7 linked regions of the Homo sapiens genome follow. The protein of the gene in region 6 purifies or fractionates together with the protein of the main gene of each other region. This does not show direct contact. Each region holds a gene or a part of one and is shown on either strand. Other genes may lie near its edges.

Evidence for each region.
Region 1: the proteins of WDFY2 (region 6) and U2SURP purify together in Homo sapiens (affinity purification with mass spectrometry; 3 studies listed by BioGRID and IntAct, with this or other methods). This does not show direct contact.
Region 2: the proteins of WDFY2 (region 6) and MIEF1 purify together in Homo sapiens (affinity purification with mass spectrometry; 3 studies listed by BioGRID and IntAct, with this or other methods). This does not show direct contact.
Region 3: the proteins of WDFY2 (region 6) and PALLD purify together in Homo sapiens (affinity purification with mass spectrometry; 3 studies listed by BioGRID and IntAct, with this or other methods). This does not show direct contact.
Region 4: the proteins of WDFY2 (region 6) and UTP6 purify together in Homo sapiens (affinity purification with mass spectrometry; 3 studies listed by BioGRID and IntAct, with this or other methods). This does not show direct contact.
Region 5: the proteins of WDFY2 (region 6) and CCDC51 purify together in Homo sapiens (affinity purification with mass spectrometry; 3 studies listed by BioGRID and IntAct, with this or other methods). This does not show direct contact.
Region 7: the proteins of WDFY2 (region 6) and C2CD5 purify together in Homo sapiens (affinity purification with mass spectrometry; 3 studies listed by BioGRID and IntAct, with this or other methods). This does not show direct contact.

The regions. Positions count from the first base shown.
Region 1 is NC_000003.12:143,018,354-143,022,795, reverse strand, and holds part of U2SURP (U2 snRNP-associated SURP motif-containing protein), read right to left. Parts: intron 2,828-4,442; coding exon 2,760-2,827; intron 2,198-2,759; coding exon 2,103-2,197; intron 1,447-2,102; coding exon 1,411-1,446; intron 1,324-1,410; coding exon 1,241-1,323; intron 300-1,240; coding exon 134-299; intron 1-133.
Region 2 is NC_000022.11:39,511,348-39,515,460, reverse strand, and holds part of MIEF1 (mitochondrial dynamics protein MIEF1), read right to left. Parts: coding exon 4,023-4,113; intron 3,613-4,022; coding exon 3,435-3,612; intron 3,230-3,434; coding exon 2,967-3,229; intron 1,945-2,966; coding exon 1,138-1,944; 3' UTR 232-1,137; coding exon of another isoform or gene 88-231; 3' UTR 1-87. UniProt on the Homo sapiens protein: Mitochondrial outer membrane protein which regulates mitochondrial fission/fusion dynamics.
Region 3 is NC_000004.12:168,509,864-168,514,305, reverse strand, and holds part of PALLD (palladin), read right to left. Parts: intron 2,884-4,442; coding exon of another isoform or gene 2,802-2,883; coding exon 1,894-2,801; intron 1-1,893. UniProt on the Homo sapiens protein: Cytoskeletal protein required for organization of normal actin cytoskeleton. Roles in establishing cell morphology, motility, cell adhesion and cell-extracellular matrix interactions in a variety of cell types.
Region 4 is NC_000017.11:31,877,004-31,881,445, reverse strand, and holds part of UTP6 (U3 small nucleolar RNA-associated protein 6 homolog), read left to right. Parts: intron 1-691; coding exon 692-873; intron 874-2,664; coding exon 2,665-2,744; intron 2,745-3,118; coding exon 3,119-3,196; intron 3,197-4,442. UniProt on the Homo sapiens protein: Part of the small subunit (SSU) processome, first precursor of the small eukaryotic ribosomal subunit.
Region 5 is NC_000003.12:48,436,730-48,441,597, forward strand, and holds the start of CCDC51 (mitochondrial potassium channel), read right to left. Parts: upstream 3,391-4,868; 5' UTR 3,259-3,390; intron 1-3,258. Other genes in the region: TMA7 (translation machinery-associated protein 7), read left to right, coding at 3,568-3,583, 3,674-3,729, 3,812-3,899.
Region 6 is NC_000013.11:51,586,774-51,591,215, reverse strand, and holds part of WDFY2 (WD repeat and FYVE domain-containing protein 2), read right to left. Parts: intron 1-4,442. UniProt on the Homo sapiens protein: Acts in an adapter protein-like fashion to mediate the interaction between the kinase PRKCZ and its substrate VAMP2 and increases the PRKCZ-dependent phosphorylation of VAMP2.
Region 7 is NC_000012.12:22,450,216-22,454,657, reverse strand, and holds part of C2CD5 (C2 domain-containing protein 5), read left to right. Parts: intron 1-615; coding exon 616-762; intron 763-4,442. UniProt on the Homo sapiens protein: Required for insulin-stimulated glucose transport and glucose transporter SLC2A4/GLUT4 translocation from intracellular glucose storage vesicle (GSV) to the plasma membrane (PM) in adipocytes.

The sequences.
Region 1 (4,442 bases), on a different chromosome or scaffold from region 6:
TTTTCTGGTGAGTTGAAATAATTTTCATTTTAACCTCTCCATTTCAGGTCCAATCCTTCCTAGTTTTTATAAATACTTTTCCAAACCAAAGAAATATCTGAATTGTATAAATGGATAATAAAAATGTTCTTACCATTCAAATTTTTTAAAGCTCTTTCAGCATCTCTTCTATTCATAAAGGCCACAAAGCCGCAATTTCTCTCTCTGGCTCTTTCTTCATCAGTTCTAGGCCACATGATTTTCACACTGGCTAACGGTCCAAATCTTCCAAATTCTTGGCACAGCATTTCTTCATTCATCTATTAAAAAGGGTAAAAGATTTTTATTATGCAAAAAAGGGAAAAGAAAAAATTATTTTCAGAAAACAAAGTAGTTTTTACAAAATAAAAAGCAACATAGCAACGTGCTTCAATTTTCCATTTAAGTACCAGGAACGCCACACAAGTAAAATCCCGCGTGGGGCATTCATAAATCATTTCATACTATAAATATTCTGGTTTATTTAAGATGCCAGGGTGGGGAAGTTCAGTGGATGAAGAAATCAAAATCATTTTTACTCTCTATCTTCCTTTGTTTTAAGGTCCTGGATCTAAGTAAGATGTTTTATAGTGATGGTTTGTTTAGGCATTTAGTAACATTTTTCAAGCAGGCATGGTTAGTACATTTAAATTAAAGAGGAAATATGTATTGACAATGAAGAAAAAAAGTATCTAATCATCTGTTCTAACAATCAACTACCCATGTAATCAAATGCAGAGAAAACAGGTAACAGTATATATGCAAAATATAATTTTTAATAATAGCATATTATATACTACCGTTACTACATTCCCCATATCATAATTAACAGCACCAATGCAGGAAAAGAATTAAAATATAAAAGACAAACCACAAAGAGTAGTTTACTACTATGAGAAGAAAAAGGGACTCCACAAGGAAACAAGTATGCATCAGAAGTGGACAGTCTCAAAATAATATTATTCATCAATGGTCACACCCTGATTTAATAATAAAATCAGCACCTAGTAAAACATTTCAAATCCAGAGTTCAATCTAGTTACTGAAAGAGGAAACAAGAATATGTGGCAAGACAACCTGGGCCATACCAGTAAGACAACTCTAAAGACTATCCAATTCCATCAGATTTGTCAGCTTCAGAATCTTGATTTTTTTTGACTAACAAAGCTTTCTTCCAAAAGCATAAAGCATATCAATCAACATTCATCTTACTTAATATTACCTGTGGATTAATGTTTCCAAGGTATAAATTAGTAGTGCTTGGATCTCCTACATCATGTGAGCCAGGTGCGTAATCATCAAGAACTAGGGCAGAAAGAAAAAAAGAATTATAACCTGCAAAACATAAAGTTTGGAAAATTTATCGATTAAAAGAGCAAAAAACTGTATTACCACCAGATGATCTATTTCTTCTTGAAGGCGCGTCCACTTAAAGGGGAGAAAAGAAGACAATTATTAGTTTTTATAATACAGTAGTCCCCCCTTACCCTCACCTTTGTTTCCCCCAGTTTGTTACAGTAAGGTATTTCTGAGAGACAAAAAGAGAGACCACTTCACACAACTCTGTTGTTGTTGTTGTTGTTTTTTGAGACAGACTCTTGCTCTGTCGCCCAGGCTGGAGTGCAATGGCACGTTCTCGGCTCACTGCAACCTCTGCCTCTCAGGTTCAAGCAATCCTTCTGCCTCAGCCTCCTGAGTAGCTGGGATTACAGGCACGCACCACCACGCCCGGCTAATTTTGTATTTTTAGTACAGACAGGGTTTCATCATGTTGGCCAGGCTGGTCTCGAACTCCTGACCTTAGGTAATCCACTTGCCTCGGCCTCCCAAAGTGTTGGGATTGCACATAACTTTTATTTCAGTATATTGTTATAATTGTTCTATTACTTATTGTTGTTAATCTCTTACTGTGCCTAATTTACAAATTAATTTTTACCACAGCTATGAATGTGTAAGGAAAAGGATAGTATATATCCATGGTTTCAGACATCCACTGGTGATCCTTGGAATGTAACCCGCCACGGATAAGGTGGGAACTACTGTAATTAATCACAAGCATACACATTAAAATAAATGCCACTTACTAGAACGACGCTGACCATCAGAATCTGACTGAGGAGGTTCAAATCGACTTAATCTGCCTTTTGTTTTATGTCTCTCATCACGTTCCTCTTGAATTCTGTTGAAAATATTTACAATCACTTATAATGAGCCAAAATTTGTTCATTCACATTTCAGAATAGCGCTTATCAAATTACTATCATCAAATAACTAGAAATATCTGTAATTAAATACTGGTACTGATAACCAAGATTAGAGGGTCCCTCAGCTATAATACAACCACGAGCAAATTTCTGATATATCATACTACCAATGGAACACAAAGCCTACTTTAAAGGTGAGGAGGAAATTAAACACTAAAACCACTGAATTTGTTTCTTGCTAAGTCTAACTGCCCCTCACTCCCATCCCAGTGAGTATACTGTTTCCACTGCAAACAGGACTCTGGACATTAAGTAAATCAATTGAACTGAATCCTCGTAATGCAAGCAACCCAGGTGCTGGACTAAATGCTAATTTATTTTCAAAGATAGCCCACCAAATATTATAATATCTAAAACAATCTCATAGCAAACTGGTTAGTAATAACTAACTGGTACAGTATATTCTTTATACTTGCATCTGTTTATGTATCAGCTCAATACACCTATGATAGTTATTCTCCACACTATAAAACTTACTGCTTTAATTCTTCTTTGAAGAGTTCCAAATTGCTTTTTTTCTTTTCTTTCTCTCCTTTTTTAAGTGGCTATAAAGGATATGACAAGTTATACTTCAAACAAAAGGATAAGCAAAACCAATGATTCAATAATAAGAGCCTTTTTACATCATTTCAGTACAAATTGTATGTTCTAATTATTTAAATTAAAAAGGAAGAATGCTTTTCTTATCATTGAACCTCCCTTCCCCTTCCTTCAAAATAACAAACAATTAAATTATTACTACAATTAAACAATTAAAATGACAACCAGTAGTCAGGGAAATTAATGAACATGAAGTAACTGAACTGCCATGGAAAGTAACTGCCAAAAATACGCACTCTTCAAAAATCACCTCTGGAGGACATGAGTTACTGGAACAGTAAGTAACATCTTTGGAATCCTCTTTTAAAACTGCTTCTTAATCTACTTTTGGAATCCTTCTTTTAGAAGTGCCAACATAATTTAATAGGGAAGAATAATCTTTTCAACAAATGGTGCTTGGACAACTGAATATCTACATACAGAAAAATGAAGTTGGACTTCTACTTTACACCATATACTAAATGTACAAAAATTAACTCAAAATGGTTCATGGACATAAAAGTAAGAGCTAAAACTATAACACTTTTGGGAGAAAACCACAGGAATGAATATTCATAATCTTGAATTAGGTGATGGTTTCTTAGATATGACACCAAAAGCGTAAACAAAAGAAAAAAACTGATAAATTGGACTCCATTAAAGTTTAAAACCTCCATGCTTCCATCAAGAAAATGCAAAGACAACCCAGAGAACAGAAAACATTTCCAAATCATATAGCTGATAAGAACCTTGACTCAAGAAGATGTAAAATACTCTTACGATTCAACAACAAAAATACAAATAACCCAATTAAAAAGTGGGCCAAGTATCTGAACAGACATTTCTCCAAAAGAAACTTATAAATGGACAATAAACACATGAAAAGATGCTCAATATAATCAAGTACATGCAAATCAAAACCACAATGAAGTACAACTTCACACACACTAAAATGACTAAAATAAACTTTTCAAACAAAATAGTTTTGTTTGTTTGTTTGTTTGTTTTTGAGATGGAGTTTCGCTCTTGTTGCCCAGGCTGGAGTGCAATGCTGTGATCTTGGCTCACCACAACCTCTGCCTCCCGAGTTCAAGCGATTCTCCTGCCTCAGCCTCCCGAGTAGCTGGGATTACAGGCATGCACCACCATGCCCGGCTAATTTTGTATTTTTAGTAGAGACGGGGTTTCTCCATGTTGGTCAGGCTGGTCTCAAAGTGTTAGTGTACGACGTGAGAAAACTGGAACCCTCATACATTACTGGTGGAACTGTAAAGTGATACAACCACTTTGGAAAAACTGGCAGTTTCTCAAAAGGCTAAACATAGTTACCATGTGACCCAGCAATTCCACTTCTCGGTGTGTGTATATACATGTATCCAAGAGAACTGAAAACATAAGTTCACACAAAAAAAGCCCACACATGAATGTTTACAGCAGCATTATTTCTAACAGCAGAAAAGTGGAAACAATCCAAATGTCCATCTACTAAGTAATGCATGGATAAACAATATATGGTATGTCCATAAAATGGAGTATTATTCAACCACAAAAAGGAATGAAGTACTGATTCATGCCACAACA
Region 2 (4,113 bases), on a different chromosome or scaffold from region 6:
CAGCAAACACCCCTCTCACATTCCTATGGCAGACGCTGGAGGATGAAGGGCTGGCTGTTGGGTCTGTTCTTGCTCTAAGGCCACATCCTAGAAAAGCAGGGCCTGTCTGGGTAGAAAACATGGCCACCAAACCCCAACTAGTGACTGGATTTTCCAGCTGACATTCAGTCGACTGTCTACCTCCATCATCCTCACCTGATGTCTAAGGCTGCGTTCCTTCAAGGCCTTGTCCTGATTGGCAATAAAATAAGGAAAAGGTGTGAAAACCAGCATTCATGATGAAGTGGTGCCCTGGCAGTCCCCATCCTTGTCTGTCTGACCCCTGCAGCCACAGATGACGAGCAGACACTGGGCACACAAACCCTTCACTAGGCCCTTAACCAGCTCTGGTTCCCTACTCTGCACTTCTGCTAATAGCCACCAAGAAATTCAACCTGCAAATAACTTTGCATTCAGCTTATCCTGTGTGGGTCATTAACAGTGTTCCCATGAGAGACATTCTCAGCATTTATGAATGGGTCAGGAGGTTGGGGGGAGGATGGACTTCTACTCCAGGAACCGTGGTCAAAGGCCAACTCTTCTACCAGCCTCACTCCCAGAAACCCTAAATACTGTCTCAGCACTCGCTCTGTAGAGTTCAGCTTTGAAACATGCTATCACAGCTCTTCAGTGGCATTCAACTAAAAGGCAACATCTTAATTAGGCAGATATGCTCCAGGGACAAGAGCAAAACAGAAGGCATGAACGAGAGAGGAAAAAATAGAAAAGACACTGAATAGGAACAGGCAAACGGGCAAGGCAGACCAGATAGAGGCAGCAAACATGGGCCAAAACGCAAAACACCAAGTGGTCCATCAGCTCAGGCCAGCACGCCACCTTCTCAATTCATTCCAGAAAAATTAGCCTGGAGCCAGGGGGCGGCAGAGAGCACAGTGATTGGTAACAAAAATAGGAAGAGTTGGGTAACAAAATAGGAGACGAAAGAGATGTCATTCTAATCAGCATGAAGTGACCAGGGTGATGATCAGCAAGACACCAGGCAGCAGGAACCCTGTGAGGCACCAACTAGGTAGCCAAGTGTATCTAACGGAGAATCCAGGGCCTGACCACCAACACCCGCTTTGGCCTTCACCTGCCCTACGTCTGCAGCAGCACCTCTGGCTCAGACAATGAGCAATACAGAGTGTATCCTAATTCGTCTATTTCTTCAGGGGTGAGCTCTGCAAATAAGTTCACCTTGGGGTTTAGGGCACTGGGCAGGACTCCAGCCTCTAAGTAGCTGATAAGTCCCCTCAAGGCCTGCAGGAAACGGTCGGCCAGCATATCCGGAGACCAGTCAGCCTCCTCCTGGGCCAAGTGGAGGATGACATTGGTTAGCTGGCTGGCAGTGAGGTGGCCCAGAGCCGGGGTGGACTTGCATATGGCCTTGAGGATCTTGAGGCACAGAGATCGGCAGCCCGAGTCAGCCTGGTCCAGAGCCCGCAGGCGTGCCGTCTCCGCGGGACGCAGGCTCAGCCGCCACAGGTTGTCATACTGGGCTAGCCGGTGTGGTTTGGCCACCAAGACTGTGTCACCGAGGGTCACTGATGGCAGGAAGTCAATGAAGAGATGTTTGTCACGCTCATACTGCACCTCCAGTGTGAGGGCTTCTGGGGGTGGGGCCGGGCGGATCACATAGTCCAAGAGGGACCCTATGGCTGGCCAATTGATGGAGCCAGCCACTACCTTCTCAAATGTATCTGCGACTGTCTTTGGAGAGAGGTAGCCCCCTACTACACAGCGGTCCCAGTAACTGCTCCCACGAGGAAAGTACTCTGGATTCTCACGACGCACCAGGAAGAAGCCAGGGACATTCATGATGGTGTCTTCACCAGGAATACATGACCACAGGTTCTGCTCCAGCACAAGGGGCACAATGAGTTGGATGTGGTCAGCTGTCACCACCTGTCAGGGCAGAATTTAAAGGGTTTTGAGGGTTTACTCTGTTCAAAAGACATGCTTCCTCTAAGACGGTTCCCACCATCTTACATTCCCCCCCAGCAAGAATGGGAACTCTAGGCCGGGCGCAGTGGCCCATGCCTGTAATCTCAGCACTGTGGGAAGCTGAGGCGGCTGGCTCACTTGAGGTCAGGAGTTCAAGACCAGCCTGGCCAACATGGTGAAACCCCATCCCCTACTAAAAATACAAAAAAATTAGCCAGGCATTGTGGCGTGTGCCTGTAATCCCAGCTACTCAGGAGGCTGAGACAGGAGAATTGCTTGAACCCAGGAGGCGGAGGTTGCAGTGAGCCAAGATCGTGCCACTGCACTCCAGCCTGGGCAACAGAACAAGACTCCATCTCAAAAAAAAAAAAAAAAAATTCTTTCATGTCACCATGCAATCTACACAGAGTGAGAAAACTAGAAAGGAGAGATGGGCACAAGAATATAGGAAGGAGGAGGCCTCTTATAGCTTCCTAGAAGTTGTAAGTAGGACTAAAACATGAGAAACGATTAAAGACACAAGAATAAAGAATAACAGGCCAGGCTCACGCCTGTAATCCCAGCATTTTGGGAGGCCGAGGTGGGTGGATCACCTGAGGTCAGGAATTCGAGACCAGCCTGACCGGCATGGCAAAACCCCGTCTCTACTAAAAATACAAAAAAATTAGCCAGGAGTGGTGGCACACACCTGTAATCCCAGCTACTCGGAAGGCTGAGGCAGGAGAATCGCTTGAACCCAGGAGGCAGAGCTTGCAGTGAGTCGAGATCGCACCACTGCACTCCAGCCTGGGCGACAGAGTGAGACTCCGTCTCAAAAAAAAAAAAGAATAACAAGCATGGATCTCCAAATGCTGCTGAGGTACACAGGATTCGGAAGCTGTAAGACCTCAGTCTTTCTGGCAAGCCTGGGACACTGATCTGTGCCAACAACACTATGGTGCTCAGCACTCAAACCCCACCCACCATGAGAACCACCTTGTTACCTGCAGGTCATCGTAGAGGCTGCCACTCAAGTACATGTCCCGAAGCGGCATGTCAGGCAACTTGGCCCGCAGGAAGCTCCGGAGCTCGGCACATATGTCCACAGCAGCTTGCTTGGCCCGAGCCTGCTCTCCAGCAGGGATGGCTGCCCGGTTCCGGTAGTAAGTAAGAAGTTTCTCCTGCAGGGACATGCGGAGTCGTGACTTCTTCAAGTCTACCTGGCCCTTCCTGGCCACTGGCTTGGGCCGGGGCGGGCAGAATGTATCTGCCAAGGCAAGAGAGAGAGGCACGTGAGCTCTGCCCATGCCTGCTCAGTCCACAGCTGCCTCAGCCCCAGAAAGAAGGGCCTGGCATGGAGGGCAAGTGCTGGCACAGTGCCTGGCACAGATGTGCTCAGGAAACATCTGCTGAGTGCAGGAGTGGTACTGAAAGTCCAGAGAGGTCCCAGGAGGGGCAGCAGCCCTTCTCACCTGTGTCGAAGGTGGAGGAGTCTGTGGGAAGGGTCTGCAAGGACCGGCTCAGGCCCGTCTTCATGTCCCTGTTCAGCAGTCGTGGGGAGCCCATCCAGTTGGGTTCTTCCCAGCTCCTTTTCCCCGAATGGCTCAGGCGGGTGGGGCTGGTAGGGGCACTGATCGCCCGATCGTACATCTGAAATAGCAGAGAGGACACAGGACATAAACCTGCCCTCTTTCCCTATTTCCTTCCAATTTACTTCCTCCCCAGAAGCTCTGTCCTAGTAAGTTCTTTTAGTAATTTTGTTTTTATTTTAGATTATAGAATACTTTGCTCCACGCAGAAAATCTCAGGGAAGACTACATGATATAAGACATAGATAATCCACGTCATGACCCAGAGAAAACTGTTTGTAATATCTGGTATGTTTCTTTCTAGATGCATGTAATGACGATCACTCTATACATACTTTTGAAACCTGTTTTTTTCACTTATCATTGCGATCATTTCCTCCTAGAACGCTTCGACATTTTCTTTCTATAAAACATTACATCTTATGACCATACCACTACATTCCACCCCCAGCCCTGGCTGCATGCACTTACCCGCTTAACTGCCAGCGTGGCGATGCCCAGCATGGCCGCTCCACCCACCCCCAGCACCAGCCGGGCATTGGAGAGCACAAAGTCAATGGCC
Region 3 (4,442 bases), on a different chromosome or scaffold from region 6:
AGATTAAGAAACCAACACTAGCAAAGCTTGTGTTAGTGAGCAAAGGATCAGAGATACAGGGAAGTTTGTGATCTGTGAAATGCTATTAGTAAGAAAGTACCAGTGTTTCAATTCAATCTTTAGCCAGTGATGTCTACTTTACCATTTTTTTCCAAATCAAATAATTTTCAGTTAACTTTTTTTTTTTCTTTTTTTGAGACAGAGTCTCGCTCTGTCACCCAGGCTGGAGTGGAGTACAGTGATATGATCTTGGCTCACTGCAACCTCTGCCTCCCAGGTTCAAGTGATTCTTGTGCCTCAGCCTCTTGAGTAGCTGGAATTACAGGCACTCGCCTCCATGCCTGGCTAATTTTTTGTATTTTTAGTAGAGAGGGGGTTTCACCATGTTGGCCAGGCTTGTCTCGAACTCCTGGCCTTAGGTGATCTACCCACCTCAATCTCCCAAAGTGCTGGAATTACAGGCATGAGCCACTGTGCCTGGCCCTTGAGTTAACTTTTTAAATATTTATGTAATTTAGGTAAAGCATTCTGCATGAATAAAAGCAAAACTTCCCAGATAAATGAATATTCATTATTTGTGTAGTATAATCCTGACTTGTTATTTTCATTTTGCCATATAAAATTAAGAAATGAGAAATAATAAAGATAATAGGTAACACTACTGCAGCAGTTACTAGCTGCAAGGTACTGCTTTAATTTTCCCCATGTATTATTTAATCATAAAACAGAATGATGTAGGTATCATTATACTTCCCATTTCACAGATGAAGAAACTGAGTCACAGAGGGGTAGAGTAACTTGGGCAATGGAATCATGACTGGAAACCCTGCAGGGGGACTCCAGGATCTCTTTCCCCTTAACATTTTTGCTCAGGGGAAGGTATAAACTCTACAATGAAGTCAGAAGAATGTATAGAAATTCTAATGAACATGGTGGTATGAGTGCCTATTAACTCTAAGTGCATACTCCCTTCACTGTTATTTCTTGCTGTCTCCATGCTCTAGTGGCCAGAGCCTGTGTAGGAATAACGGGCAGACCTGCGGAGCTCCTGACTTGATTTATCTTTCTTTCTTAGGAAAGTTCTGCCTTCCTTCTTTGCATCACATTGAAGGGGTGTGTGTGTGTTTATGTTACTGAATATGTGCCTATTTAGTCCATGCCTGAGACTAGATTATCCATTTGGGGGATAATTTTTGTTTGGTTTTTGTTTCTTGTATATGAGAATCTTTTTTTTTTTTCTTTCCAACTTTTACATTCGGGGATACGTGTGCAGGTTTGTTACATGGGTAAATTACATGTTGCAGGGCTTTGGCATACAGATTATTTTGTCACCCAGGTAATGAGATTAGTACCTGATAGGTAGTTTTTTGATCCTCAGGCTTCTCCTACTCTCCCCCCTCAAGTAGGCCTCGGTGTTTATTGTTCCCTTTAATGCGTTATTGGGGGCTAATCTGAAGGTTGGCCTCTACACACTCGTGCCTTTCACTTCTAGATAGCAGCTAGTTTTAGCCATGCTTTCAACCGTCTTTAGCAACTCATATTCAAATATACACACACTTTTCACAGTACTTCGAGTAAATAAGTTTCACATCTTAAGTGTGCCTATTTGTTACTAGTTCCACCATCTTAGAGAACAAACTGTTTCCACTGCTCTTTGCCTTCTCAAGTCCTTTGCCTTCCTTCCTTAGCACAGAGGGTGCATGACCACAGATATATCAGGCCAGGGACAACTAGGACAACTCATAGTGGCGATTCTGGGCTGCTTCTCTCCTTGCAAGTACTCTACCTCAGTCTCCAGAGGGCTAATGACACAGGAAATCTTTCTTCCTCCCATATTAAAGTAACACCAAAGTCAACAAGATCATTTGCTATGCATAATACAAAAATTCATACCTGACTCGAGGAGTGGGGTTTCCAGTGACTCTACACTCCAGATAAACTCGGCTCCCTTCTGCTACTTCTTGGCTCCTCAGCTTTTGGATGAATCGAGGTGCAGCTGGGAAGTGGAGGGCGCTGTGGGGCTGTGGGTGAGACTTGCGGTTGTGTGGCACTGCCAAGTCCTGGTTGTCCTGGTAGCAATGCCTGGCCCCAGGGGACTTGACCTCTCTTTCCATCTCCCCTTGGTCTTCCATAGGGCTCTGGCTGGCTGAGGCACTCAGCAGGGCTGACGGCTGATTTTTAGGAGACAGGTACCCACTGTCTGGTGACGAGGACTCCCCATTTGGGCTTCTGTTTCTTGGCTTTGCGGCTTTAAATATGGATGTTAGCTCCTCAATTAAATTAGCTGCCTTGTCACACAGCTGGCTCTGGGGGCCACCCTTTCTTTGATGTGGCGTTTTGGGCTTTACGTTTGTGCTGGGAGTTTTTGCACCACGCTTTTCAGCCTTTCGGAGGCTCCGGATGTAGCTGGGCCTGGTGAGCAGGGGTGACATGGCAGGTTTCCTCTTTGAAACAGGTGAAGAGATACTCTTAGTTTGTTTCTCTGCCAGAGGCTGGACAGGTGTTGACCTGTTATCCTGAGGTCTCCTCGAGGCGTGTTCACCCAATTTGGTCTCCTTATGGGAAGGATGTTCACAGAGGCTTGCAGGAGAAGTACTGAAAATCTGCGAGATCTCCTTTTCCGAGTCAAAATCTTCTGTTTCGGAGTCGGCTATGGCTCTCCGGGCCAGGTCAAGACTCTTGTTTATCTCTTCCTGGCTGAGGAAAGCAGAAAGGCCCGGGAAGAAGTCAGTATTCTTGCTTTCTTCCTGCATGTCTGAGAGGGAGTCATAGAAGGACTCATGGGAGGAGGTCCCTGACATATTTGAACGGTCTTCATGCACTCTGTGTCTGCTTTCAGTAGGAAGGCCAGAGGCACTGGAAACTGTTTTCTGAAACTGTGTTCTGAAAGACAGCATAGAATGTCATTAGTAGCAATGATTTTTTCCCCATTTTAATCATAAAACTTGTAAGTCACAAATTGGGAGAAACATTAAAGTGAATGAATATAAGTTTTCTTTATTTTACAAGTTGGAAGAAATATCAAGTATACTTGTGTTGATCATTTTATGATTTTAATACATGCCCTGTGAGTGCTATCAAATATCTCACTAGGCAGTATTAAATCATTCAAAAAGATGATGTGTGCAGTAGGCACTATTAGTAGGATAGGGCTCACAGTCAGCCCCCCGCCCACCTTACTCAAACTCTAATTGATTAATGTAATGAGATCAATAGAATATTGATATTTTTAGTAAATCTGACTCTGATTATCCAACCCTAAACCACAAAATGCATTTTAAGGATTCCAATTTTCATTTATTTATAGTTTTCAGTGAAATCTTTGAAACTTTATTGTCTCCAGTTATGTGCATTCATATTCATTCACTCAACAGTCCAACAGATGGTAATAATCACTTATTAAATTTCAGGTGCTGGAAGTACAGCTGTGCTGTATGCCAGGGATGGGCAAACTTTTCTGGAAAGGGCCAGATGGTAGATACTCTTGACTTTGTGAGCTGTTCAGCCTCTATTATAATTACTCAACTCTGCATGAGCATGAAACCAGCCAAAGATGATGGAAATGAATGAGCATGACTGTGTGCCAATAAAACTTTATGGACACTCATATTTGAATTTTATATCATTTTAATGTGTTAAAACTATTATTATTTTGATATTTAATTTTTAAACAATAGTTTTAAAATGAGAAAAACATTCTTAGTTTGCAGGGCATACAAAAAGGGTTGGGATGGATTTGGCTCAGGGGCTGAAATTTGCTGACCCTTCATCCAGACTTACAGCACAGTTATCATGTTCAAGGAGTTAAAAGTCATGGGAGGTAGTAAAGTGGAGGAGATAGAGAAGATATTAAACAAATAATATGTTAATAATATAAAATTTTGATAAGGCTTTTAAGGAAAGTGAGAAAAACCTGGGGGCTATGAGAGTCTAATCTAATCTTAAAGGGCATGAGATAACTAGAGGCCTGGCATAGAACACTTACATGGGAATATCAGCAGAATTAAATAAAAGGTATTTCATTATCTGTAAGCTATTACAGCTTTAAATTCCACTGACATTTTGAACTTTATATTGTGAAGCAATGACTCCTTGTTACTCTAAGTGTGCCATTCTTTTGCTATATATTGTTCATAGAGTACTGAGAGGGACGATCTAGAAAACATCAGCGGTGATGTCTGCCACAAGACTGAGTCTAGGAGTGAATAATGGAAGCTTCCTGGATGTGGTGAACCTCAACTTTCTACCTTGTGTCAGTCAGGAGTAAACTTGGTGGGACATTCCCCAGAAATGGTGTGTCTTCAGAGGACTGAATTGAGTTGCTTGCGTAGAAGTATCTTCCCATCTAAGAAAATCTCTAATTTCAAAATACATTATGCAAGAGTCGAGGGGGTTGTAGAAATCCAGCTCAAGAGCCTACTGCTTCACTGGATGCAGTGAGT
Region 4 (4,442 bases), on a different chromosome or scaffold from region 6:
GAAATACAAAAATTAGCTGGGCGTGGTGGTATGCGTCTGTAATTCCAGCTACTTGGAAGGCTGAGGCAGGAGAATTGCTTGAATCCAGGAGATGGGGGTTGCAGCGAACTGAGATTGTGCCACTGCACTCCAGCCTTGGTGGCAATGAGATTCTGGCTCAAAAAAAAAAAAAAAAAAAGTGAAAAAGTGGGACAATTCTGATCCATTGACAAAATTTCTACAGTTAGTGAACATATTCTGGAGAGCCTGTTGGGAAATATATTTTTTTTTTTTTTGAGACAGAGTCTCGCTCTGTCGCCCATGCTGGAGTGATGCGATCTCGACTCACTGCAACTTCTGCCTCCTGGGTTCAAGCAATTCTCCTGTCTCAGCCTCTCTAGTAGCTGGGACTACAGTCACATGCCATCATGCCTGGCTTATTTTTGTATTTTTAGTAGAGATGGGGTTTCACCATATTGGTCAGGCTGGTCTCGAACTCCCGACCTCAGGTGATCCACCCACCTCAGACTCCCAAAGTGCTGGTCTCCCAGTGGCGTGAGCCACCGGGCCCGGCCTGGGAAATAGTTTTTATGGTACTGCAGTTGTTACAGGGATGTCCTGTGTAGATTTTTTAAGCACAGGTAACTGTTTCTCTGATATTCTGAGTCAGTTTCTTGTTGTGGGATTGATAACAGTAAATTGTATTTTTCAGCCTTCAGGCTCTACACACAGATGATCCTCTCACTTGGGATTATGTGGCAAGGCGAGAATTAGAGATTGAGTCACAGACAGAAGAGCAGCCTACAACGAAACAAGCCAAAGCAGTGGAGGTCGGCCGGAAGGAGGAGAGGTGCTGTGCTGTGTATGAAGAGGCAGTGAAGACTCTGCCAACAGGTGAACTTCACCAAACCATGGTGTGATATAGAAGGAATAGTATCCCTGATTGTGAAACTTAAGCTCCTGTTCCCATTGCCAAAATCAATATTGGGGATGTCTCTGTAACATAGTTTACGATGAGCCTGGCCTTTTTTTTTTTTTTTTATTGGGAGGCAGAGTCTTGTTCTGTCACCCTGGCTGGAGTTCAGTGGCTCGATTTCGGCTCACTGCAACCTCCACCTCCCGGGTTCAAGCAATTCTCCTGCCTCAGCCTCCCAAATAGCTGGGACTACGGGTGCCCGCCACCATGCCCAGCTAATTTTTTTGTATTTTAGTAGAGACGGGGTTTCACTGTGTTGCCCAGACTGGTCTCGAACTCCTGAGCTCAGGCGATCTACTTGCCTTGGTCTCCCAAAGTGCTAGGGTTACAGGATTACAGGCGTGAGCCACCGTGCCTGGGTTTTTTTTGTTTTTTGTTTTTTTTTGAGACAGAGTCTCACTCTGTTGCCCAGGCTGGAGTGCAATGGTGTGATCTCGGCTCACTGCAGCCTCCACCTCCCAGGTTCAAGCGATTGTCCTGCCTCATCCTCCCGAGTAGCTGGGATTACAGGCGTGTGCCACGATGCCTGGCTAATTTTTGTATTTTTAGTACAGACGGAGTTTCACCATGTTGGCCAGGCTGGTCTTGAACTCCTGACCTCAGGTGGTTTGCTCACTTTGGCCTCCTAAAGTGCTGGGATTACACGCATGAGCCACCGCATTTGGCCGTGCCTGGCTTTCTAACTTGGTCTTGGCTTTCTAACTTTTATGACCTTCCTCCATAGTAGTGGTATTTATGTTCATCTATTTTGGGGGAAGCTTAGGAAATAATTTCTAAGATTCTTCAATTATTATTTCTTAATTATCTATGTTTTTTTTTGAGACAGGATCCTGCTGTGTCACCCAGGCTGGAGTGCAGTGGCGCAATTTCAGCTCACTCCAACCTCTGCCTCCTGGGTTGAAGCAATCCTCCCGCCTCAACCCCCTGAGTAGCTGGGTCTACAGGCGCATGCCTCCACGCCAGGCCAATTTTAATGTATTTTTTGTAGAGATGGAGTTTTGCCATGTTGCCCAGGCTGGTCTTGAACTGCTAGAATCAAGTGATCTGCATGCCTCGGCCTCCCAACTTGCTAGGATTACCGACATCCTTAATTATCTTTTTGAGACAGAGTCTCACGCTGTTGCCCAGGCTGGAGTACAGTGACACGATCTCGGGTTACTACAACCTCTTCCTCCCAGGTTTAAGCAATTCTCCTGCCTCAGCCTCCCGAGTAGCTGGGATTACAGGTGCATGCCACCATGCCCCATGGATTTTTGTATTTTTAGTAGAGATGAGGTTTCACCACGTTGGCCAGGCTGGTCTTGAACTCCTGACTTCAGGTGATCAGCCTGCCTCAGCCTCCCAAAGTGATGGGATTACAGATGTGAACCACTGCCTCGCCCTTAATTATCTTTGGAAAGTGATTTAATTTTTATTTTGTAATAATGTAGAATAAAGGCAGAGGGGATATATAACCTGGATAAGGCTTTCAATTTTTATATTTAAGCTGTTACTCAGTTGTTTTCCCCCAATATTTGAGGTGTTTGATTGGCTGTAGTCAGCATAACACTTCTTAAAATCAGGCTGATTTAAACTCTTCTTCAGAGGAGAGTTTTCCCCTTGAAGTAAAGGTGTAGGATGACTGTTTTTTTCCTTATCTTTTAATAACTTTGATGTGATGAATGTTGAACTAAGTGATCTGATCAACACAATCTTTCTGACTTTTCCAGAGGCCATGTGGAAGTGTTACATCACCTTTTGCTTGGAAAGATTTACTAAGAAGTCAAATAGTGGGTTCCTTAGAGGGAAGGTGAGGTTGTTACATGGTTACAGTGGTTGACTAGATAGTGACTGCCTTCTGAAAGAACAGAAGCACAGATCTTTTGGTGTCTGGCACAGTTTCTGAGAACTTTTATGTTTAGCCACTCTCTCTCTCCTTGTGGGTGACGTGACATTCTAAAGGTCTGAGTCTGGTTTGCCGCCAGGTTAGGAGGGGCTCTCGTGTAACTGGGCTCTGTTCGGTGCAGCTGCCCATTGCATCTATTCATAAGTGAAACCACCATGCAGGAGCAAGTCAGCTTCTTTGAATTTTAAGAAATGCGCAAAACTGCTTTTGTTCATGTCAGAGGCCAGAGGCCCCTGCTGGGATCTTTGTAATGAACTGAGGGATTTTTCTGTTTTCAGAGGTTGGAAAGAACCATGACTGTATTCAGGAAGGCACATGAACTGAAGCTTCTGTCAGAATGCCAATACAAGCAGTTGGTAAGAACATAGAGAAAATATTCTGTGCCAGTTACAAATACCTTATTCCAGTTGTTTTGTGCCAGAGTCATGTTTTAAATATATATAGTCTTAAGATGAAGGCCACTTGGGAGTTCGGTATGTGAAGTGTGTTTATATGTGTTTCCCAGTATTTGGCCTATGCAAAAAATGAAATCTGTACTAGCAAAGGGAGGAGTATTATACAGTGAAAAGCACTTAGAACAAGAGTCATGATTTGGGTTTATTTTGTTTGTCCACCCATTCCTTTTTTTTTTTTTTTTTTGAGACGGAGTTTCACTCTGTTGCCCAGGCTGGAGCACAGTGGCGCGATCTCAGCTCACTGCATCCTCTGCCTCTTGGGTTCAAGTGATTCTTGTGCCTTAGCCTCCCAAGTAGCTGGGATCACAGGTGCATGCCACCACGCCCAGCTAATTTTTGTATTTTTGGTAGAGACGGGATTTCACCATCTTGGCTGGGCTGGTCTCTAACTTCTGACCTCAAGTGATCCCCCTGCCTCGGCCTCCCAAAGTGCTGGGACTAAGGCATGAGCCATCATGCCTGGCCAAATTTTTGTATTTTTAGTAGGGACAGAGTTTCACTATGTTGGCCAGGCTGGTCTTGAGCTCCTGACCTCAAGCGATCTGACTGCCTCAGCCTCCCAAAGTGCTGAGATTACAGGCATGATCCACTGCTCCTGGCCGTGCCTGGCTTTCTAACTTGGTCTTTCAGGCGTGAGCCACTGTGCCCAGCCTAGATGATTCATCTTCTGTCGGAAGAAACATATCAAACCGTTTTGTCTCTTAGACTGGAGGCTCTATGGGTGGTAGGGAATGCATCTGATTTGTTCACTATTGAATCTAGCACATATAGTGTGCAATAAAAATGCTTGCTGAATGTACTGATTATATACTGTCATTTAATTTTTCACAAATTTGTACAATTGGATTGTTTTTAGGTTTTTTCTCTTTTTCAAATAATGTAGGTATAAGCATTTTGAACAGGTAAAATTTCCTTTCATTCATGTATTTTTTGGACCATATTTGTTAATGTAGAAGTCCCAAATTGAAGCGTTGAGCACTTTCATGACTCTTGCTACAAACTGTCAAATTGAATTTCAGAAAAATTTGCTTTAGTTTATGTTATGTCCAACTCTGTTTGAATATACCTGTTTCCTTGACACTCCACAAATACTGATTTTGTGGATTGATTTTTGTTTATTGATTTTTAAAATTTTTTTGGAGACAGA
Region 5 (4,868 bases), on a different chromosome or scaffold from region 6:
TCTTGGCTTCCTCCAACCTTCTCAGCCTCCTTTCCCAGCACCTCCTCTACTAGCTGCCCATTTTTAGACCCCAGCAAAGTCACCCATTCCTGGCAGAGATGACAGCTACTGTCTCCTATGCAATCTCGGCTTTCTCCCCTGCCGTCCCCCACCCCCATGTTCTGCACATGGCAGCCCAAGGCCCTGTAACACAAAAATCAGATTACATCCCTCTGATCAAAATCCCCCAACAGCTCCCATTTCACCTGGCGGTGGCCAAGAAATCCTGAGACCTCTCAGCCCTCATCCTCTTCCTTCTACTGCCATACTCTGCTCCAGCCACCGTGCTGGTCTGTGCCCTGCCACCTTGTCCAGCTGGATGACTCTTCCTCCACGAGTCTACTCGGCTCACCCCGACATCTTCATCTTTGCCCAAATATCACCTCTCAGTAAGGCTTCCTTGACCACTCCCTCCCCAGCTACCTTCTCTGCTTTATTTTTCTCCTGATGGATATATTTCCTTATGTGTTGCCTATTCTCTCACTAGAACATAAGCTGGGTGACAACAGACTTCATAAGGGAATGTGGCAATAATTCCCATGTGGCAACTGGAGTTGTTTCTCCACTCCAGTCCCTCCCCTCAGCCTCTCCACCATCCCACCAGCCCCCAACCCTGGGCCCTGTTTCTCAGCCCCCAGGATGTCACCACTTAGATGTTTCACAGGCCCCCCAACCAGCAAGGAGAAGAATGTTCCTGGCAAAGAGAAAAGGTGGAAAGTGCTTGAGGTCGCCCAAAACCTGAAAGGCAGTCAGTGCAACTGGAAAGCAAAAGCAGAGAAGAGTGGATGGAGAGGCTGGATAGGTGAAGCAGGGCCCTGAGGGTCAAGTTCGGAATCCTGCCCCTTCAGATCCATTCTCCCGCTCTATGTAGATGGCTGTCTCCTACCAACTGCCCCTTCCTCAAGCCTCTATCATCTGTTCCTCATCTTCACTTCCAGCTGATGGTCTGCTTGCTTCATTTTCCATCAAGAAAATAATAAAAAGTTGGAAGAGAACTTCCACAAACTCCCACCATACCTTCCCAACCATCAGTAACTGCCCCATTTCCACCTCCTCTCTTGATCCTCAGGATAAAAAACCCATGCTTCTAGGGAAAACCAACCTGTGCCCCAGGTCCCAAATCCTCTCTCCTCCTGAGACATTACTCAGTAATTGATCTGACACCCCCCCACCAGCAACTGCCCCATTTCTTTGGTTTCCTTTATAACCAAACTCCTTGACAGACTGCCTGAATTCACTGTTTCTGTTCCTCTTCTCTGATTCCGTCCAGCTCCCTCTGATCTGGCCTTCACCTGCTCCTCCTTCACATGCCATTTTTCACTCGGTTTCCAGTCCCCACTCATCTGCCTAACCTCTGGAAACTGTAGCACCCCGGCACTCGGCACTCAGACTCCTCTCTTATCCAGTCCTGTGGTTTTAAAAATCATCTATGAAAATGGTCAAAAAAATTTATTTTGGTGATGGCCATACAACTTTGTGAATATAATAAAACCACTGAATTGTACACATTGCATGAATTACATGGTATGCAAGTTATATATCAATAAAGTTGTTTTTTTAAAAAAAAAACAGAACTATACTCTTGACTCCTCCAGCGCAGACCTCTCTCCCCAGGGTTCTAGGCTCATTTATCAAACTTCCCAACCTATATCTCTGCCTGAAAATCTAATGGGGATCTCATCTTCCCCTCCCAAACCTTTTTTTCCCATAGCCTTCTCCATCATGGATGACAGCAATACCAAGTTCAAATATTCAGATCAACAACCTCGCATCACCCCTGATTCCTCATTTCTCTCCCACCTCACATCCATCTATCAGCAAATGCCCCTGGCTTTCCAAATCCAGGATCCCTCCTCCTCTCACCTCTGCCACTGCTACCAAATGGTCCCAGTGACCCACATCACATCTCTAGCCTGGATTATCCCAAGAGCCTCCTGACAGATGTCACCCTGCTTCTATTCCAGCCCCTACAATTTATTGTCAGTCGAGCAGTCAGTGTTCCTTTCCAAACACAGGTGGAACCATTGTCTCTCTGCTCAACCTCTACAATGGTTCCCCACTTCTCTCAAGGTAAAAGCCTGTCTTTTCCATGGCCTACAGGGAACCTACCCACTGGCTCTCATTCCTCTCTGACCTCATCTCCCACTAGTCTCCCTTTCCTCACTCCACTCCAAGCACATGGACCTTCTTGAAGTTGCTGGAACGCACCAAGTTGTCCCCAGCTCAGGGCCTTCACGACAGCTGCTATCTGTGCTGCTCGCTCCCTCACCTTCTTCAAGTCCTGCTCAAATAGTAGCCCCTTGGGAGGTCTTCCCCATGCACCCTATCAGATATGGCCATCCCACTCCCACCCTAGCACTCCTGACCCACTTTCTCTGCTTTATTTTTTCCATGCATATATCACATGACCTGCAACATGTATCCCATTTATTTGCTTTGGTTATAGTCTGTCTCACTCACTAGAATTTCAGCTTGGTACCTACATATAGTACGTACCCAGCAAAAAATGTACTCATCTGCCTAATCTCTGGACACTGTAGCATCCCAGCGCTCAGCACTGTTATTTAAAAAAATAACAACTTTGGCTGGGTGCGGTGGCTCACGCCTGTAATCCCAACACTTTGGGAGGCTGAGGCGGGGGGATCACGAGGTCAGGAGTTCGAGACCAGCCTGGCCAACATGGCGAAACCCCGTCTCTACTAAAAATACAAAAATTTTCCGGACATGGTGGCGGGCACTTGTAATCCCAGCTACTGGGGAGGCTGAGGCATGAGAATCGCTTGAACCCAGGAAGCAGAGGTTGCAGTGAGCCAAGATCGTGCCATTGCACTCCAGCCTGAGAGACAAGAGCAAGACTCCATCTCGGGGGGAAAAGAAAAAAAAGCTTTATTGATATATAACTTGCATACCATATAATTCACCCAATGTGTACAATTCAGTAGTTTTACTATATTAACAGAGTTGTATGGCCATCACCAAAATAAATTTTTTTGACCATTTTCATAGATGAACAAACAGAATTCGCAAACTGCTGCACCCCTGACTATATTATAAAACTCCTTACAGGGTTTTCCAAAGCTATAGGACCACGTGATATAACTCCCGTCCACTTCTGCCATCTCCCCGCCTAATCTCCCTCCACCCAAGCTGTGCTTTCCTTGGTTCCAGGAAAGCGACGAGCTTGAAGCTCTTTGCACATGCACATGCCCTGCTGTCTACCTGCAGTGCTCTTCCCGCGCACGGCCACAGGCCTGGTAGGCCGTCCGGTTAAGTACCCCTCCTACGGTTCCGATTCTACCCTGGCAGGACAACCCTAGCTCCTCGTACCTGGCGTGGCCCGACCAATCGTCTGCCACTCAGTTGACCTCTGACCTGTTAGTACCCGCCCCTGGAGCGCCGCATCCGGTAGCGAGAGTTCAACTTCCTGACTAGGAGCCAATCAGCGGGGCCGCCTCGCTGTCTACGACAAAGGGTGGGGCAGACGCTCCGTTTCCGGTGGCAGGGTCTGGGGAAGCGGCGGCAGGCGCCATGTCCGGCCGCGAAGGTAAGTGTTCCGGAACCGTGAGGACTGCGGGGACGGCGGGGTGGGGACCGGGCGGCAGGGGCAGGCCGAACGTGCTCGTGTCGCCCACAGGTGGCAAGAAGAAGCCACTGAAACAGCCCAAGAAGCAGGCCAAGGAGATGGACGAGGTGAGGGCGGGCGCGGAGGCACTGGCGGGTGCGGGGGCGCTGGGAGACAGGCCTGAGTTGAACACGCTCTGCCTCTCCCCAGGAAGATAAGGCTTTCAAGCAGAAACAAAAAGAGGAGCAGAAGAAACTCGAGGAGCTAAAAGCGAAGGCCGCGGGGAAGGGGCCCTTGGGTAAGTGGGGGCCGAATGGAGCTCAAGCTGGCCAAACGCTATGAGCACCTATTGGGATGAGGGCGCGGGCATGTCTTTTTCCTGCCTCCTGAACTGCGAGGTCTCGTTTTCCGACGTCCGCTGCAGCGAATGGTCTCTAGCCAGTCTAGGATTTGCAGCGGCAGTAAGGGCCGGGAGCTGGAAACGAGGTCTCCTGCCTCCCAGGCAGTCTGGGCTTCCATTCCTTAGGAAGAGCTGCAGAAACGGAAACAGTGAAATGTATTTACCTCAGACGCAGATTCACAGTTAAGTTTCTCAAAGTCTGACGTCGTCCGCAATCTTTTGCCCCAAATTCGTATTTCACTGCCTTCTAGTGTTTGAACCTTACTTGACTTAGAAGTTTTTTTGTTTTGTTTTGTTTTGTTTGAGACAGAGTCTCACTCTGTCTCCCAGGCTGGAGTGCAGTGGCGTGATCCCGGCTCACTGCAACCTCCACCTTCCGGGTTCAAGCAATTCTCCTGCCTCAGCCTCCCAAGTAGCTGGGATTACAGGCGCCTGGCACCACGCCTGGCTAATTTTTTTTTTTTGAGACGGAGTGCGGCTAATTTTTGTATTTTTAGTAGAGATGGGGTTTCACCATCTTAGCCAGGCTGGTCTTGAACTCCTGACCTCGTGATCCACCCGCCTCAGCCTCCCAAAGTGCTGGGATTGCAGGCGTGAGCCACCGCACCTGGCCAGTTTTTTTTTGTATTTATAGTAGAGACGGAGTTTCACCATGTTGGCCAAGCTGGTCTCGAACTCCTGACTTCAAGTGATTCACCCGCCTCTGCCTCCCAGAGTGCTCGGATTACAAGCGTGAGCCACAGCACCTGGCCAACTTTTTTTTTTTTTTCGTACTGCTTATATTATCTCTAATATATGCTTTTTTGCTTTCTGAGTCTTTTTACTTCTGGGTATGCCTAGACTAAAAGATAAAGTCCAGGCTCTTCA
Region 6 (4,442 bases):
TTCCTCCACTTGAGATTTTAGGATGATATGGTTGCAGAGACTACTTATCTAGTCACTACAGAAGCACATCACAGTACAAGAGTCATAGCTAGGAAATCTAACCCCCTCCTTTGCCAGATGGACAAACTGAAGCTTAGAGTGATGAAATGCCCCAGGAAATGCCAAGGTCAATGCAGAGTAGAGCTGAGATCAGACTCCCAGTTCTTTTCCAAGAATCCTTAAATTAAAGGCACAGGAGACCATAAAGTAGCACTCCCTGCCAAGAGACAAGGAGATGACCTTTTCTTTTTTGGTCTTACTGGTTAGTTTCTCATACTTCTGAATTAATTTTTACTAAGGACTAAATAAAATATTTGGATGAAGAGGCTCCCTGCCCCGAAATACAAAAAATTTTTTTAAAGAGAAGACTGCTTGCTGAAGTTGCACAAGGGGAGTTTTTTTTGTTTTTTTTTTCTCTGTTAGGGAATTTCTAGGTTAATTGTAACACTCTCCTTGGGAGACCTACTCATATAAAAATAAAGGAGTGTGATCTCTTTTTAAATTCTTTCTATTCTGCCAATAGTTGAGAAGAAAAGCTTGGTATGGTGGTCAGTCTCTTCTAAGTATATACTGTACACAATTTAGTTTAGTGTTACAGATATCAACAAATCACCACCTGCAGTAGTCTTAAATCACAATCTACTTATTGATTTCTAAATGCCACAAAGTGTTTTAATTTTCCCCACACTGTTATTTCTAATGACATCAAGATGATTCTCCATGCTTTCTCAAAGCCAAATGCAAAGTGAAAACAGACAGCCAGAGAAAGATGCTGTGCAAGTAAAAACTCACATTTCCTTTTCTAAAGTTTTGGTTTTGTTTGTTTGGAAAAGGCCATCTCTCTAAAGTTTATTCTAGCTACTTAAATCCTATGATTTTTACCTATATTCCTTTTTCAAAGTAAGTTTAGCAGCACTTGAGGTGTAAGACAGCTGGTCAGGATTTCAAGATTTAAAAATTACTCATTTTAAGAGTGTCAGAATTGCCATCCTAACTTTCCCATAGCATTGCAATATGTGGATGAATATATACTGATTAAGATCTGTGAGGTCCTGGACAGACTCTGGTTTAATAATATAAAAACAGGAAATTCAGAACTGTCAGGAGCTCTGGGATCACTTGAAGCTAATCCTCCTCTAGTAAGCCTCCTCAAATAAGCTTTCCCATAGTGATCTTTCCTTAAAAAGTCAGTCTATTTCTGACCTTTGGAAACACAGAGGCAGCCTGTTCCCAGAAAGATTTGCTAGCATGAAGAGTGCTTCATGTTTTGAATTCGGAGTAAAGGTCTAATTTTCCACAATCATACAGGACAAGTTCCCTCTTTGGGACCTTGAAATCCACAATTATTACCACCAAGTGATGAGTCTCAAGTGCGCAGTGGAAAGTGTATTAATTTTATGCTATTAGAGACTTCACACACTGAAAAATTAGTTTAGATGGGTTCTAATTTTGCTGACTTCAGAGCGCTCACTCCCTCACTCTGAAAAGTCCTCAACTTTCAGAACTGTGCTTGGCACTATAAAACTTTGATTTGCATTTCTTAAGAAAATTGTGCAAATGTTATAAAATACATGGTACATAAAACTCTATCAGGAGCTCAACTGAACTGCACCAAGGTCTAATTATCAAACTAATGGTTGAAGCAGAGAACTGGGATAGTGTAATTTCATAATAAAAAGAATTAATGGTAAATGAACCAATACTATGAGGATTCATAAGATGAAATAAAATTTTAACATATTTTTTTCAGGAAACAGTCAAGTAGTCATGGCCACTTCGAATCATAGTAATTTAGAGTCAGGAAAAAAAGGCCCTCGAAGCAGAAAAAAAATCCAACCCCCTCATCCCAGCCCCTTCCCACTCCCATCCCATATTGTATTGTTGATTACCCTGGCCTAAAGCAAGCTGCTAAACTTCTCTCAGGCTCAACTTAAATACCTTTGCTGACAGAAACTCACAAAATCCTCAGGTCCATTTCAATTCAAAAAGGTGATCACCAGTCATTGCTTAATTCATTCAAGGAACATATAATGCATATCTCCTTTGTGCTAGGCATTGGGGATCAGATCTCCTTATTTTGGGATTAAAAATCTCACCCCTCTCTTAACAATTGCTTGTGCTCTGCCCTCAGGACTTAGAGAGAACACAGCAGGGCCTATGTTGTATAAATTGGTCCTGAATAAAGTCAGAATATAGAAAGGCAGTTCCCCATATCGCCCTCCCCAGTAACTTTCTTCTCTATAGTTATCTCTCCTACAGCCTCCTTCTCTACACCTTACCACCAACACAGGCCTTTTTATCCAGAAAAAGAACCCTGAAATCTTTCAACCAAAGGGTTCAGTAATTTTTGCTATCAGAGTCACTCCTCCTGCAGACACTAATTTCCAGATTCCTCAAAATGTGAGGACACTGAGTGCTGAGTTCTGAACTCAAGCCAATTGGCTCCGTTGTCCACCCTTAATCAGGACATTCTAGTGCTTCTTAATGAATGGGAGTTTTCTTGCCTCCTCTATCTAAAATGCCCTTTCCTCTACAGGAAAGGCTTTTTCACAAGAACTCCTACTCACCCTGCAAGACCCATCTGTAGAAGAGATTGTTGGTCTTCTCTAACCACCACAAGCAGGAGGTTCATTGGCAACCCCAGAGGACAATGTTTGTACCTGTTGTTAACTCCTAGGAAGGGAATGATTTCCTATAATTGCCTAAACGAAACTATCAAGTTACTGAAAGTCTCTGTATGAATGCTAAGATTACTGACTTGTGTTGATATGCTTATAAAGAACTTATGAAGATACAAAGGTCTGCATGGGACTGGTCCCACCTGGAGAGAGGTCCCTCCTGGCTTTCATCACTTGAAGAGGCTGCCACTAAACAAAGGAGCCCCTGCTAAGCTGCTGACTAAACATAAGTCTTGACCAAAACAGAGCAGAGATGTCTGAAAGGAAGCTCCTAGGCAGGGAATGCTAAAATGGCATTCACTCAGAAAAGACAGTCCAAAAAGAAGCTGGGAAATGAGGTATCCAAAATATCAAAGTTTGGTATGCCCTTTGGGTATATAATCTAACTACAACTAAAGCAAAGACAGAATCAGACAAGGGTGGGGAGTTCCTGAAACAGGCTCTGTATTATGGTAGCACCAGAAATCTTTATTTGTAAATCAGATTGTTTTTACATTTCTTCTATTCCTTTATATTTCCTCCATTAATACTGAGTAAAGTTCAAGGCTGTTTGAACTCTGCTAAAAGGAACCTGAAGGCAAGAATTTTTATCCACTCTTGGGCTTGAAGATTTGAGTATTATCAGGCCATTATTGAGGGCAGTTTGAGTCAAAGAATCCTCCAACGGGAGGTAAAATTTAGGGGATAATACAGATTGTGGAATCCTGCCATTCTTCATCTGAAATTCTCTTTCCAATACTAAATCTTGGAAGTAGTAGTTTTGTTTTTATTAAGCAATATTCTTCTAAAATTCCTGCACTAAATTGTGAGCATCTTGAAAGGACCTTATCATTTTCATCATTACCATGTATGCATGTGACTGGAACACAGTAAGTACTCAAATGTTTGTTGACGGAATAAATGAAGCAATTCATGGACTTTCAGAGTTTTGAAGTACTTTAAAGTCCACCTAGTCCAGTACTTTTCCTACAAGTGTATACTTGTCCACATAAGCCTTTCATAGGTCATCATATAATTCACTCAACAAATATCAACTAAAAGTCTACAGTAGTTAAGATGCTGTGCTTTCAGGAACAGCAAAAAAACAGATCAGTCACTGATACAACAAACGTGTATTGAGGACGTATTGCATGCCAGGTACCATGTTAGGCCCTAATGATGATACAATGAATAAGACACACAAAGCTCCATAGGGAACTCACAGAAGAGAAAATAAAATGGACATGAAGTATATACTGTATAACACCGTTTAAAATGGAAAATGTTAAGTGTTTTCAAAGGCACACATAAAGGCAATGAAGAAGTCAAAGGTCAAAAAGATAAACCAGGGTTTCATTAAGAATTTATGGAACACTGCCATTCAGGTATGGAACATTACTTGCGGCTTTAACCTCAGAGTTCAGGAATGAAGATTACTAGTTTCTAGCTAAAGCAGTGAATGGTAATGGCTTTGTAGGTTGTGATGAAAATCAATATTACATTTTCATATATTTAGCATTGTACCAAGTGACATTAACATTGAATTTTGGAAAGCAAGAATATAGATCAATTATTTTAATGAAAACCATAACCAAAACTGAGCTCTAAATAACAAAGTTATGTTCATGTTTGAGTATATGACCCAAAGAAGCACAGACTTGTCAACTTGAAAAAAAGTATATTAATAATAATTCCAGACTTATGGGTGAACCTTATTTAACAGTAACTCCATGACAAAATAATTTC
Region 7 (4,442 bases), on a different chromosome or scaffold from region 6:
CACAGTCAGAGAAGGTATCTCGGAAGACATTATATGTAAGTTGGGACCAAGGAGTGAATGAGTTGTTCTCTGAAAAAAAAAAAAAAAATGAAAAGTCTGCAGGAGCAACATGTGCCAGTGAGCCTGAGGTAGGAAGAGTGCTTGTGCATTTGAGAAACTGAAAAAAAGGCAAGTTTGATTGGAACATGGTTCAGGTTCAGAATGAGAGATATAGATAACAGGTAAGTTTTATCGTTTAGGCTTATCATCAATTTGTTTAAATGATGATGAGCATGATATGATGGAGATGTTGAAGGTGGAGGCACAATTTGAATTCTTGCCTTGCCATTTACTTACTAGCTAATTTGATCATAGCTAGTCATGGGCAAATTACAAATTCTCCGGGCTTCAGTTTTATCATCTGTAAAGTAAAGGTAGTAAATCCTTGCCTGGACATGTGTTCAGTCAATGTTTGTTCATTCATGCAGTAAATCCCCATTGTGAGGGAAGTTTAAGTTATTTGGTATATTAAGATAATTTAGGATGTTTTAATATATATTCTTTGACATTTTGTGTGCATTCCTATATCCATACACATGTATATATAGTATGATTTTCCTGTGCACTATTATTTAGGAAGGAGGAGTCAGTGGTTTTCTCCATGCTTTTATTGCTGAAGTGTTTGCAATGGTGAGAGCTCATGTTGCTGCATTAGGAGGGAATGCTGTTGTCTCCTACATAATGAAGCAGTGTGTCTTCATGGAGAATCCAAATAAAAACCAGGTAAGATGCAGTTAAAAATTCCTGATTGGCGGGAACCTGAGAATTTCTTCCATGGCTTCCTACCCCTAACCCCCTCCAAAAGAGAATTGCTCTTTAGAGCCCTTTGAGTCTAGATGCGTAAGATATTTTAATGAGTTTATTCATAACCATGGTCATACATAGTCACAAGTCAATACATGCTATTTCGACATCTCAGGTAACTAGGGTATTATTCTTAATCACATCTGGAATTTGTGCTCCTGAGTTACTGTTTCCACCCTCTTGTTGGTAGGTGTTTAGAATACAGTGATAGCTAACTGAGGAGAGCTAAAGATATCCTTTAGTTTGGACTATGATGCTGTCCAGTTTCAGCTGCCTTACTAATGAAGAGTATATCATAGTAAGGCCATAGTAAGGCTTGCTTATTTCTAGTAAGTAGTGTTATTCTCTTAATGGGGATGAAAGCAGTTAGTTTAAATCTTAAAATAAATTTCTAAATTTTGTGTTAAGATAATTCACTTAAAATTGTTAAAATTTTTTAAAAATTAATCAACTATACTAAATAGTATGAAATGCCATAAAGGCAGTTCTTCCCAACCTGCTTCTCTTGGCACACATCAAAAATCCTATTTCTGTGGTCCACTGGTACACTGTGATGAATGCATGAAGCTGTATGTGGCTGCTGGTAATTGGCCCTGCGTTTCTGACCCAAGTGACTCCCCTAAGAGCAGAGGGGATCAATATCTTGGCAGACACAGAGCTTAAGAAGCTCTAATATAGACTAATTACTTATCATTTAAGCAGGAGTAAGAATGAATAGATGTGTATATGTATATATATTTTTTGCCCCTACCTGTACATCTAGATAATTGTAACCAAAGACAAATCATTTAAATTCTTAGTATCATTTTTTCATTAGTAAAATTATCTTATAGTGAAAGTGAGTTGCTGTCATAAATATATAAGCAGTTTGAAAAGACATTATGGAAATGCAAAATTGTTTTAGCTTTATTTAAGAGATAGGGTCCTGCCATGTTACCCAGGCTGGACTTGAACTCCTGAGCTCAAGCGATCTTCCCACCTCAGCTTCCCTAGTGGCTGGGACTACTGGCACATGCCACCACACCTGACTGGTTTTAGTTTTATTTTGAAATCATGAAGTTTAATCAGTTTCTTCAGAAGGGTACTTCATTTACTAAGTTCTTTTCAGGTTTTCTTGATAGTTTATACATTTTTGTAACTCACGGTATACTAAACTTCATTAACATGTTGAAGAAACATAGTGATAAACAAAACTATGAGACAACCTTCTGATAAATTTTGGCAATGGCTAAGGCACGTTAGAGGGGGAAGGGAAGCTATGAAACATCCTAGGAGGGTTTTTGGTAGATAATTGGGGCATATCTAAAAGCTCAGTGAGGCTACTGCAGTTCTGGATTCGCAGCTAGCTTATTGATAAGATTTGGCGTGAAGGAGATTGTGTGGAGTGGTCAAAAGGGGTACATGGGGAGAAGAAAGATTGAGAAAGGAACAGTGAGAAAGGCGGGAGGGAAACCAGGAGGGCTGCGAACTACCTCTACACGGATCGTTTGAAAGTAGAAGTAGAGTGGAAACCAGGCACATCCTGAGCAGGAGTATTTGATATCACTTGATATTATCTGGTCGTAAAGAACGCATCTATTAGATCTTGAAATTATATTCAACTGGATACTTCTTTGTAATAATTTATTTGATATAAGAGGATTTTCCCTACTTTAAGAATCCTTTTTTGCTTAATTACTTTGTATTTGAGATTGAGATTTGTAGTTTTGGGTTTTTCCCAGTGTTAAATTTATACAACTTGTTCACTGACTTAACTAGCACCTTAACAAGTGCCTCAAAATCAGCTTATCCAGAACAGAACTTATCTCTATGCCTCAGTTTTCTCATCTATAACATTGGGATAAAAATTGGGGAAATCATGAGTTAATATATGTAATGTGCTTAGTGCTGGTGGATTGTAAGCACTGTAAAAGTTGTTACTATTATCTTTTAAATGTTTGTCTTCAATGATTTCTTACAAGACAAAGTCATGCTTCTTAATATGTCATACAAGGTCTTCCACATTCTCAAGTCTTCTACCTTTTCAGACTCATCTGTTGCCCCCCTCACCTCTCCTAACATGCCCAAGAGGTAGATTGCATTGTTTGGTTTTCCAAATGAACTGTGCTTTTTTTTTTTCTTTTTTCATTTCTAGTACTTTGTAGTGTTGATATTAACTCCATTTTGTAGGTGAAAAAAACTGAGGGCTAAAAAACTTAAGTTTGGTATGAGGCTATAAGTAGAAAAGCTAGAATATACCCAGATTTTCCACCACCAGTCGTCTTCCTCTGTACCCAAATAATAACTGTCAATGGCTGATTACCACTGATGTGTACACATCATATCAGGTGCCATGATTTATGTCATTAGCTTTTTCCCCCACTTTTATGTGAGATCTTGCATATACACAAAAAGTGTAGAGAATTGCACACAGACATTCTTACACGTGACCCTCAGCTTAAGAAATAAAATATTAAAAATATGGTTGAAGCCTCAGTGGGCCTGTTTTCTCTTTATAATGAATGAACCATCTTAATTTTGTTGTCATTCCTATGCATGCCTTTATATCTTAAAAAAATTAATTGTAGTTTTATTTTGTATCTAAAATGTTTTAATATATTTTTGAATAGGTAGTACATGATTCAAAATTCAAAAAGGTATGAATGGAAAAGTCTCTCCTTGTCTGCTGTTCCAGCCAGTCACTTTTCTTCCCCACATGCAACCAAATTTTTCATTTTTTTTTTTATGGTAACTTCTAGAGATGTAACACTCCAGAGTGTGTAACCAGAGAGATTTTATACATACAAGCAAATATATATAAATATATATTCTTTTATCTCCCAGTTTAATATAAGTGGTAGCTTTACAGTACATATTGCTCCTCAGCTGTCTCTTTCACCTGCTTTTTCTTGGCAACATTTTCATTTCAGGACATAAAGACTACCTTTATTGTTTGTTACAACCACATAACACTCCATGGTATAGGTCGATCGGAATTTCTTTAATTAGTCCCCTGCTGATAAATATTTAGGTTATTTTCAGTAAATGTTGTGCTAATACATACAGTGCTACAAAAACAATGTGATGCATAAGTGATTAGCACAAGTGTGAGCATCTCTGTAGGGAAAATTTCTTAAAACAGAATTGCTAGGTCAAAGTAGTACCTTTGTAATTTTCATAGAGATTTCCAAAGTTCCCCTTCATTGAGATATTTTGCATATTCTTTATATAAATATAGAAGGATATATATAATTATGTAAATGATTTTATATTGTATATATCATTTTGCAAATTGTTCTTAATTTATCATAAGATTTACCCATATTGATTGAGCTTTAGGTCATTTTTCACTTCCATATAGTATTTCAGGCATGAATATTCCACAGTTTATTTTCATTTCCCTTTTGATGGGCATTTAGTTTGTTTCTAGGATTTTGCTAAACATGATGCAGTGAAAAGTTACTTATTAATCTTTGTTGCATACATGTCCAAGATTTCTCTAGGGAACACATATACATGGAATTAATGGGTCAGGGAGTGTGTTCTTTTTCTGCTTTAGGAGACGGTTCTTTTCAGGATGGTTGCACTTCCTGTTGCAGTGTTAAGTGTGTTGCTCTTGT